2 separate regions of the Homo sapiens genome follow, and region 2 is linked to region 1. The links come from fine-mapping of genetic effects on plasma protein levels. A gene starts in region 1. The other region holds a variant in brackets. All regions are shown on one strand. Distances are between the middles of the regions.

What was found. PIP is the chance, under the fine-mapping model, that this variant and not a neighbour inherited with it causes the effect. The UK Biobank Pharma Proteomics Project read protein levels with antibody pairs (Olink). The fine-mapping took linkage between variants from a reference panel, not from the people measured, so its PIPs are less certain.
Region 2: its variant is fine-mapped to the plasma level of the BOLA1 protein (UK Biobank, PIP above 0.99).

What each region holds. Positions count from the first base shown.
Region 1 is chr1:149,894,774-149,900,149 of GRCh38, forward strand. It overlaps BOLA1 (bolA family member 1), which reads left to right and starts at 4,795. Exons shown (of 2, transcript NM_016074.5): 1 at 4,795-4,899; 2 at 5,237-5,376. The coding sequence starts at 5,287. LOC124904412 (a long non-coding RNA gene) reads right to left here and starts at 4,775. Exons shown (of 2, transcript XR_007066597.1): 1 at 4,705-4,775; 2 at 603-948. RefSeq lists an enhancer at 4,829-4,888.
Region 2 is chr1:149,907,475-149,912,850 of GRCh38, forward strand. SV2A (synaptic vesicle glycoprotein 2A) reads right to left here. Exons shown (of 13, transcript NM_014849.5): 3 at 4,326-4,506; 4 at 3,352-3,503; 5 at 3,096-3,229; 6 at 2,327-2,416; 7 at 1,987-2,097; 8 at 1,718-1,806; 9 at 568-732; 10 at 226-359. Among named protein-coding and RNA genes, the nearest start is that of SV2A, 7.7 kb to the right of the region's middle. RefSeq lists enhancers at 2,703-3,204, 3,205-3,704. The variant A/G (reference allele first, on the strand shown) is at 2,933.

The sequences.
Region 1 (5,376 bases):
AATTAGGAAAGTAGATACACTTAGAGTATCTTCCACAATTACAGACAGAAAAGGAATTTTATAGTGGAAAAGCCTGACAGATACCATCTTAATCAAGTGATCAGAACTATCACTAGTAATAACAAAAAGATCACGTGCCCTGGTAAGGTTCACAGAGAAGAATTCAACATTACTTCTGCAGTATTCCAGCCAAAAATGCATGTGCTAAATTTTAATCATAAAGAAACATCAGACAAACCCAGATTGAGGGACATTCTACAAAATAAATGTCTGTAACTTCAAAATTACCAAAGTCATGAAAGACAAAGAAAATCTAGGAAACTATTTCAAGTTAATGGAGAACAAAGAAATATAACAACTGAATGCAACACGTCATCCTAGATTGGATCCTGGACCAGAAGATATTTCTTTTCATTTTATATATATGATAGTAGTGGAACAATTGGCAAATTTTGAATAAGGTCTGTAGATTAGATAATAGTACCGTATCTGTGTTCATTTCTAGAGTCTGACAGTTATATTCCGGCTATGTGAGAAAATTTTTTTTTTTAAGTAAATATACATCAGTCAGGATTCTCCAGGGAAACAGAACGAATGGTAGATATTTTGATAGATAGTTTTATTATAAAAAATTGGCTTTTTGATTATGGAAGCTAATAAATCCCAAGATCCCCAAGATCTTCAGGGTAAGTTGGCAAGCTGGAGACCCAGGAGAACTGATGATATAGTTCCAGTCCAAGTTCAAAGGCCTGAGAACCAATGGTGTAGTTCCAGTCCAAAGGCCGAGTCTAAGACCCAGATGGAGCCAGTGTTTACTTCTGAGTCTGAAGGCTGAGAAAAGCCAATGTCCGGGTCTCAAAGCAGTCAGGCAGAAGGAAGTCTCTCTTACTCCGGAGTGGGTCAGTCTTTTGTTCTAGTCAAGCTTTCAACTGGTTGGATGGGACCCACCTATATTAGGGAGGGCAATTTACTCAGTCTCCAATTCAAATGTTAATCTCATTCAAAATACTCTCACAGAAGCACCCATATTTGGCCAAATATCTGAGCACCAATCCTCTAGAAGTTGGGACATTAACCATCACAGGCCGTGCGTGGTGGCTCACGCCTCTAATCCCAGCACTTTGGGAGGCTGAGGTGGGTGGATCACCTGAGGTCAGGAGTTTGAGACCAGCCTGGCCAACATGGTGAAACCCCCCTCTCCACTAAAAATACAAAAATTAGCCAGGCGCCATTGTCCACGCCTGTAATCCCAGCTACTCAGGAGGCGGAGGCACAAGAATCACTTGAACCCAGGAGACAGAGGTTGCAGTAAGCCAAGATTGCATCACTGCACTCCAGCCTGGGCGACAGAGTGAGACTCCATCTCAAAAAAAAAAAAAAAGTTAACCATCACAGGTAGAGTTTAATAGGCTTTATCTCTGAAACTTAGTCTCAAACAGTCCAGAAAATAATTATATATTTGTAGATAGGTACATACAAATAAAACAAACAGTGAATTGTTAATATTTGGGTAATCTAGGTATCAGGATAAAGGATATACAGGAATTATTTGAACTGTTTTTTTTAACTTTAGATGCACAAACCTTGTAATTATCCTTGACACTTTCCCTCCCACAACCAAGCCATTACCACACCCTGTAGGTTTTACTTTCCTAATATACATCCTGTAGCCACAATTTCTCTCCATTTCCACCACCACCACCACCACCTTGGTCCAAATCATCATCATCTCTCACCTAGACTGCTACAGTAACCTCCCAACTTGTCTCCCTGTTTCCACTCTTGCCTCCTCTACAATCCATTCTCCACCCTGAAGCCAGTGATCTTTGCAGAATACAAACTTAAAGTCAGCTAAATGCAATGCATGATCCTTGATTGGTTTCTGAAAATTAAACATTTATAATGTTTACTTAGACTGTGCTGCTATTACAAAATACCACTGACTGGGTAATTTATAAACAGAAATGTATTTTCTCACAGTTCTGGAGGCTGGGAAGTCCAAGATTACGGCACTGGCAGGTTTGGTATCTAGTGAAGGCCAGTTCCTCATAGATACGCCATCGAGGTGACCTTACATGGCAGAAGGGACAGAAGGGGCCAACTTACCCCCTCAAGCTCTTTCAAAAGGCGTTAGTCCATTCTTGAGGGTGGAGCCCTCATAGCCTTATTACCTCCTAAAGGCCCCACCACTTAATACCAACACCATGGATTAATTTTCAACATGAATTCTGGAGGAGACATATTCAAACTATAGTAGACACCAATGAGACAGTTGGGGAAATCTGAATATCAACTGTATGTGATTATAGTATTGTATGAATGTTAAATGTCTTGGATGTGGTAATGGTATTGTGGATATGTATGAAAATGTCCTTGTTCTTAGGAGATACACATTGAAAGTACATAGCAATTAAGTGTAAAGAATTTTGTGGGGCCAGGCGCAGTGGCTCACGCCTATAATCCCAGCATTTTGGGAGGCCGAGGCGGACTGATGACCTGAGTCAAGACCAGCCTGACCAACATGGAGAAACCCCGTCTCCACTAAAAACACAAAATTAGCCAGAGTGGTGGCGCACGCCTGTAATCCCAGCTACATGGGAGGCTGAGGCAAGCAAATCGCTTGAACCCAGGAGGCGGAGGTTGCTGTGAGCCAAGATCGCACCATTGCACTCCAGCCTAGGCAACAAGAGCGAAACTCCATCTCAAAAAAAAAAAAAAGAATTTTGTGGCTGGGTGCAGTGGCTCACGCCTGTAATCCCATCACTTTGGGAGGCTGAGGCAGGCAGATCACTTGAGGTCAGGAGTTCCAGAGCAGGAGGATCACTTGAGGTCAGGAGTTCCAGACCAGCCTGGCCAACATGGTGAAACCCCATCTCTACTAGAAATGCAAAAAAATTTAGCCAGGTATGGTGGCACCAGCCTGTAGTCCCAGCTACTCAGGAGGCTGAGGCAGGAGAATCACTTGAACCCAGAAGGTGGAGGTTGCAGTGGGCCAAGATGGCGCCACTGCACTCCAGTCTGGGCAACAGAGTGAGACTCTGTTTAAAAAAAAAAAAAAAAAGAATTTTGGGCCAGGCGCAGTGGCTCACGCCTGTAATCCCTGTAATCCTGGGTGGCCGAGGAGGGTGGATCACCTGAGGTTGGGAGTTCCAGACCAGCCTGATCAACATGGAGAAACCCCGTCTCTACTAAAAATACAAAATTAGCCGGGCATGTTGGCACATGCCTGTAATCCCAGCTAATCAGGAGGCTGAGGCAGGAGACTTGCTTGAACCCAGGAGGCAGAGGTTGCAGTGAGCCAAGATCACGCCATTGCACTCCAGCCTGGGCAAGAAGAGCAAAACTCCATCTCAAAAAAAAATAAATAAATAAGATTTCTGCACCTAACTCAAGTGATTCAGCAGAAATAATTATTATTATTTCATTATTATTATACACACATACATTAAAAGAGATACAAAGCCAAGTCTGGCAAAATCTTATCAGTGAACCTAGGTGAAGAGTGGATAAATGGGTTGCTCATTGTATTAATCTTGCAAATTTTCTGGAAGTTTTAATTTTTTTTAAAGGCTAGGGAAAACAGTGTATGTCATAGTTTAAATTTCTTGAGTGTGATAAGGTTATTGTGGTTATGTATGAGAATATCTTTGTTCTTAGGAGATACATATTGGAGTAGTTAGGGGTGAAATGTCATGCTATCTGCAACTTACTTTCAAATGGTTCATCCAAAAAAGCATATAAATATATTTTAAAGTATATGTAAAGTACTTAAATATATGAGTATATATGTACAAGTATAAAATAAATATAAATGCAAAAAATGGTGGGTCAAGTGAAAGGTAGAGGGTGTTGCTTTGAACTATTCAACTTTTCTGTGGCTTTGACATTTTTCAAAATGAGAAGTTGGGGAAAAACATTTAGAAATATGTAAATATATTAAGGATACAAAATAAAATTTAAATAATTTTACAAGTTAAGAATCATCCTGGAAAAATTACATCCTGTTACATCCCTGCTTAAAACCTCAGTAGCTTCCCACTACTTCTAGGATAAAGACAAAATTGCCTAACAAGGGCTACAAGGCCTGGGGTGGTCTGGCCCGTTCCTCTCCTCCTGGTACCCTACTCATCACCATCAGCTGCCCCCTAGGCTCCAACCACACATAACCACACCCTAACTACACCAGAAGGAAAGACTCCCTCAAAATTCTCTCTCCTCCTGTCCTTTACACATGCAGCTACCAAAGCCAAAACCTCACTATGAGGGACTGAGAAATGGATTCTCATGTTGTTTCTGCTGAACTGTTTCCCTAAATCTCGGAAATATTCTCTGCCCGCCTCCCATTCCACCTCTCCAACCCCGGCCAAGTCTGGGTAACTTGCCTCCTTAGCATCCTGTGTTTATCTCATCGTAGCACCTAGTACCCAGTATTGCAATTGTCCGCTCACTTGTTAGTCTTCAGTGCTCTGTTGTCTCCTTGAAAACAGGGCCTGACTTGACTCCCCAGTCCCCAGCACTAGTCTGGGGCACAGTAATTATGTATTCAATCAGACTTCCATTTTCTTGCATATAAAATAAAGGAGTTGGGCTGGATGATCTACAAGATCTATTGGCAGTAAAATAGATCTAATAATCCCAATCCCAACTGCGCGTGAATTCCCTTTTTCTTTGCATTGCTGGGTTCAGACTTTCTGACCACCTTACCAGTGGGGAGAATCCGAGACTACAGTTCCCATGAGCCCTCAGGGCACCACGTGGTGCCTGCCCGTGCTACCAACGCGCAGCGAGGACTCCATTTCCCAGCGTGCCTCAGGAAGGGCGCCAGGACTGCATTTTGCTCCGGAGCGTCCAGAGTCCTGGCCCTGAGCGGGAATCGCAGTGGCCGAGGCTGAGCGGCAGGTAGAAGGGGCGTCTCCGGGGCTTCACAGGGAACACAGGGGCTTCGGCCCAACCACAAGTACGCAGTTGCACATGCCCTACTTTTGCCCATTCTTTGCAAATCCCCTAAGGAACGAACGCGCCTCGCGTGCGGGCCTTTCTAATCTTCGCTTGTCCCTTCACTTCCACAGCTGGAGGTCGAATTCACCACGTCACGTAGAGAAAAGGGGCGGTGTCTCGGGTCTCCCCGTGTGGCATCAAGGCGGGCTCCCTATAGGAGCTGGTGTGGACGTCCGGGCGTGGGGTTAGGGCGGATGCGGGGATCGCGGGGCGGGTGTTGACATTGTGCTCTCACCAGGCGGATCGCCCCGACCCTCACTCCTGGCGTCTGAGTCTCTGGCGTAGCCCATGCTGAGTGGGCGGCTGGTCCTGGGTCTGGTCTCCATGGCTGGCCGCGTTTGTTTGTGCCAGGGCAGCGCGGGATCCGGGGCCATCGGT
Region 2 (5,376 bases), 13 kb after region 1:
CAAATAAACTTGATGTTTTTGTCAGATATTCTATTACAGGAAAATGTCCAACATCCATTAGATTTTCAGAATTATTGGTGGTAGCTATCAGGCCCCTCTGCCACCTTCCCACAGGGGTCCAGGGATCTCAGCTTGAGAACCCTAAGATAGTGAATGAAAAAGGTTCCTTCTCATCAAGGTCCACCCAACCCTTTGGTCTGACACCCACCAGCCACCCCGCCTTACCAGTGTTATAGAACACAGTGTTGATGAATGTGCAGTTGCGGAAAAACGTGTTGCTGGATGTGACATCCTCAAAATAACACTCTTCAAACAGGGAATCCTCAAAGGACACTGACTTGAGCCGCAGCCCAATGAACCTGTAAGGCCAGGATGGTGAAAGACACTCCCCCGTCATCCTCATGCCCCCTCCAAGACTCACTCTTTAGCGAAGTAATGGGAAGCTGGGCATTGAGAAGAAACCACAAGTGTTTGCCCCCCAAATGTCTTGTCTTGAACCCCTAGACTCATAAAAGAGACGAGGTAGAAGGAACAGGGAAGAAGTGAAGTTTAAAAGTCCCCACATACTTGTCATTGAAGTACTGCCCGCCTCGGTGGATCTGATTCTCCAACGTGAAGTTAAAAGTTACATGCTCTACGCGCTCCCCGGGGAACACTTTGGTGCGGGATGCGTAGTCCACTGCCTGGAGATGGCGGATCATGTCAGGAAACCAGACGGTCAGGCCATAGTAGCTGAAGAGTCAAGGACAATGGAAACAGACAACAGGGCTTCAGACAAGGCTCAGAGATTAGAATCAGGCAGAGGAGAAAACGGAAATGTGTATCATCTCAGAACAAGGGAGAAATGGAGTCAACCTCTGTTAGGACCTTGCTCCTCTCCAGCCTCACCAGCTTCTCCCTGCTCCTCCCTTCAACAGTTGCTGCGCTCCTGGGGGACTTCAGGGTCTCGCACAGCAGCCACTATACTTTTTCTTACCTCCCAAGCATTTGCTTTTCCCTCTGCCAAAAACACTCTTCTCCACCCCAGCCACCCCCACTCCACCTGTCTGACTCCCATTCACCTTTGAGGACTTAGGTCCCCACCCCAGCCCAAGCCCCAAGTGCTCCCACTGCCCTTCCCCCACCCTTCTCTCATCACCCTGCTTCATAGCAAGTTTCGTCTCACTTCTTTTTTTTCTTTTGAGACGGAGTCTCGCTCTGTCACCCAGGCTGGAGTGCAGTGGCGCGATCTCGACTCACTGCAACCTCTGCCTCCCGGATTCACACCATTCTCCTGCCTCAGCCTCCAGAGTAGCTGGGACTACAGGCGCCCACCACCATGCCCGGCTAATTTTTTGTATGTTAGTAGAGACGGGGTTTCACCGTAGCCAGGATGGTCTCGATCTCCTAACCTCATGATCCGCCCGCCTCGTCCTCCCAAAGTGCTGGGATTACGAGCCTCATCGTCCTGCTTCTTAACCAAAACATAAACTCCAGGAGGACCTTGGACCACATCTGTTTCATCCCAGCACAGAATAGAAACTGAATCCTGGTCAGCCTACAGTACAAGTTTGTTGAGTGAACTAGCGAAGTAGAGGAGCTGGCTGCAGGATCAGAGGGGGTCTGCATGGCACCTTCCCTCATCGCTTGTCCCCTGCATCTCCATTCTCCCCACCTCTCTCCCAGCCCACACACCACCACAACCACCACACATCACCCAGCCCACCCATCTCCTCACCTGAATGACATGGTGAACCACACACCCATCATCATCAGAGTGATGCGCCGATATTCGGGACCAAAACAGGAGAGAAAATTCCCCCAAACCTACAGGGGACCAGACAAAGTCAGACCTTGACTATACTAAGTTCTAGCACCCATAGATCCCCACTTTTCTGCCCTCCCACCTCCCTTCAGCTCACCCATCACCCACACACATAGACTTCAGTCCTGCCTTCTTCTCCACTTCCCCCACTCCCTTCTATCTACCACCCCGTCCACCATTACCTGCCCCCCTAGGCTCAAGGCCCGGACCCCCCAGCGCTGGTACCAGGTCCCTGTGTCCGACTGGATCTCAATCAATTCATCCTCCTGATGAATCGTCTTAATGTGGGTTACCTGGGGTCAAGAGAAGGGGTGGGCAGTCACACACTCTGTGTTTCCCAACATCGGCCAGGCGCCTCAGTTTCCCCTGCATTAGCAAAATGGGAGGCAGGAGGTGGATATGATACCCTGAAAATCTCCTTACGGTAGAGTGTGGTCTGAGGTGGGGGGTACTCAGAGAGGGGCCAGGTAGGGGCTGGGGCTGCAGGGCGTGGAGGTCTGAGTCGGGAGGGCTGTGGCTTACTGAGAACACTCGCTCAGGATGTCCTTTGGCTCGCATGTTGGTATCATGGACCTGCTTCAGCACCATCCAGGCCTCATCATGCTTTCCATTCTAGAGCCAAAGACACAATCCCCACATCCAAGTCAGCCCCTACCTGACCCAGAGTTATAGACCCCCTCCCTCCCACCTGGCTTCTGTAGTCACAGGACACTAAATGGTTCCCAGCCCTCAACCCCACCACCAAGCCCTGACCTATGGGCATGCACTCACCACTCTGAAAGAGCCCCAAGCTGAGGTATAGCAAGACAATCAGACTTGGGCAAGAGCTGCGGGTTGGGGGTGGGGAGTGTTGTCCAGGGGAAAAAGGCAAGCACAGGTCTTGGGAATTCCATAGTACAGAGGAATGTAAAAACCAAAGGTAAGGGAAATGATGGGCAAGCATGTAGTCAAAGACCTAATCCTGCTGGGGTTAGGAGGGGAAGGTATAGGGGGTGGGAATGTCTCTTGAGCTGTAAATGCAGGACAGGGCCAAGGCCCTTCCCTGCAAAATCTTAAGTCATCCATGGGTAAAGAGGTCCCCTGGTTTCTCCACCCAAGAACCCCTCAGGGACACATTCCAAGGCAAAG[A/G]ATGCAAGATAAAGTCCCCTGGAGAGTGGACTCTGTGAGGAAGGCAGGCAGTCAAACAGGATCAAATCAAACTCCAGTTGGTGTTTGAACACAGAAGCCCCTGCTGCCGTCCACACTCCACAGCCCGCACCCCACCCCACCCCATGCAGCTCAGCCCCATCACCTCTAGGAAGAAACGGGGGCTCTCAGGCTGCGTGGTCAGAGCCCCAATGGCAAACACAGAAGGAAAGGCGCAGACGAGGACGAAGACCCTCCAGCTGTGGAACTGGTAGGCAGAACCCATCTGAAAACTCCACCCTGGTAGGGAGAAAGTGACAGCATCAGCAGAGAGGCCAGAGGCTGGGGGAACCCACCACAGGGAGCACAGAAGAAGAGGGAGGAGGGAGATAACCTGGGGTGGATTTCCGGGGGCTGCTCACCATAGTGGGGGATGATGGCCCAGGCCATAGCAGCTGCGTACACGCCACCAATCATCCAAAACATGCAGAGCCAGCTCAAATGCTCCCCTCGTTTCTCCTGGGCCAGAAACTCGGAGAAATAGGAGAAGACAATGGGGATGGACCCTCCAATCCTGAAGTGCATTTCAAGAATTCAGCATTAGCAAATGGCCATAGTCCTGATCCCCTGCCCCACTGCTCTGGACCCCGAGCCCCTTTTGTCTTCCAGGCTTTTGAAGAGACTCCATCTCACACATAAAGCCTTACAAGCTCCCATGTGGGCCAGCCATCAAGCACCCATCCTTGGGACCATGGGAAACAGGCAAGCGAGTCTCAGGGAAAGGGAAAGAGCAAATCTTAAATCTTGAAAATGAATTACAGAGTTGGAAGGGCGGGAAAGTAATTGCAGAAAAGAGAATAAATCTCCAGAGAAAAAAGACAAGCCAAAAGCCTCCAAGGGCAGATGTTGTGGGAATGGCCAGAAAGGAGCTTGGAGTTGAAGCAGAGTAAGCGGGCCTGCCATGCTTGCAAAAGTGAAGGGGCAGTGCGGACAAGGCGTCAGGGTTCTGGCAGGTGTGGGTGTTAGCAAGGTTTGTTGTGTAATGCAGGAAATGTGTAGACTCTGGTAGGGGGTAACTCTGGGTCCACAGGAGCCCAGGGGTGGGGCTGAGGCCCACTAGGCCTCTTTGTGGAGGCAGGCTCAAAAATGGAACTAGAGGTGGGGTGGAGGACTCAGGAGTGGGCCAAGGAACAGCATTCTGGACAGCAGCAGACAGGTCCTGGGCAGGGAGGAGCTGGCCTGAAGATGGCTGGGGGAGAAAGGAACTCATTCATCCGTTCAACTCACACAGATTTAAGGTGCATTTGGTGTGCCTGGCACTGTGCTGGGCCCTAAAGATACAACAGTGACCAAGGCACAGTCCTGCCCTCAAGGGACTTAGGAAGTGTACACTCACCCAACCCCAGAAAGTAGGCGGCAGAAGAGGAAAGTGCCGTAACCCTGGACAAAAGATGAGAAGAAGGCGAAGACGCTGTTGACTGAGAGCGAGATGAGCAGACACTGCCTCCGACCCAGCCGGTCAGCCAGACCTCCCCAGAGGAAGGCTCCCACCATCATGCCCAGGTAGACGATGAGGCCTGGAAGGAGGAGGAAAACAGGCAGAGGGGGTGTGAGCAGACACACCTTAATTCTCCCAGGAGATGAGCACTGAGGGAGCTGAAGGATCTGAAAAACTTCTAGAAGGTAAGTCTACCCAGAGATTAGAGCAAGTGAGAGAAAATGAATGGTGTAAGCAAAGATAGAAGATCATCTCTGCAGGCCAGGGGTTCAAAGGCAGGAATGAAGATATGGGAGAACCTGCAAACTCTCCACTCTCTTCGGTCTGTCTCATTTCTCACTCTGACACACACACAGTGACACCTTTACCCCTGGCTCACTTTGAAGGAGGAATGGGTGTGCCTAGGATCACAGACCACCCCAGGGTCCTCTCTATTCTCCCTGCTTTGATCCCTCAAAGCAGCAGGAGAGCTCTCATTTGTTCCTGGGGAAAGGGGCTCCAATTCATTTCATCTTCCCAGGAAATCTCCCACACAAAATCCATCCTTTACTCCTTCCAGTCTCAATATTTCTGGTCCAAAAACTCTCCTGTTTTTCACTGCCTTCATAAAACCAAAGCTGGAATTAATCTTTAAAATCATCTACTCCAAACTTTGCATTTTCCCATGCCCAAACCAAGCCCCAGGAAGAAGAGACCTGTCCAAGACCCCATGGCAATTTGGTGGCAGAGTAAGGCCTCGATTCTTTCTCTGTGAGTCTACGGGGTTCCTCCTCAGAGTCCCTGTCAGGAAAGGCCATCAAAGACTACATCCTGTCCCCTGGAAACTCCCATCTGAGTGAGAGAAAGTCTAACCAGCTTCTCTGGCAGAAGATCCAGGACCCTCCCCCCCTCCCCCAACCACCCCAAACTGACTCTCCCCATTTATACCAAGGAGTTTGGATACTGGCTT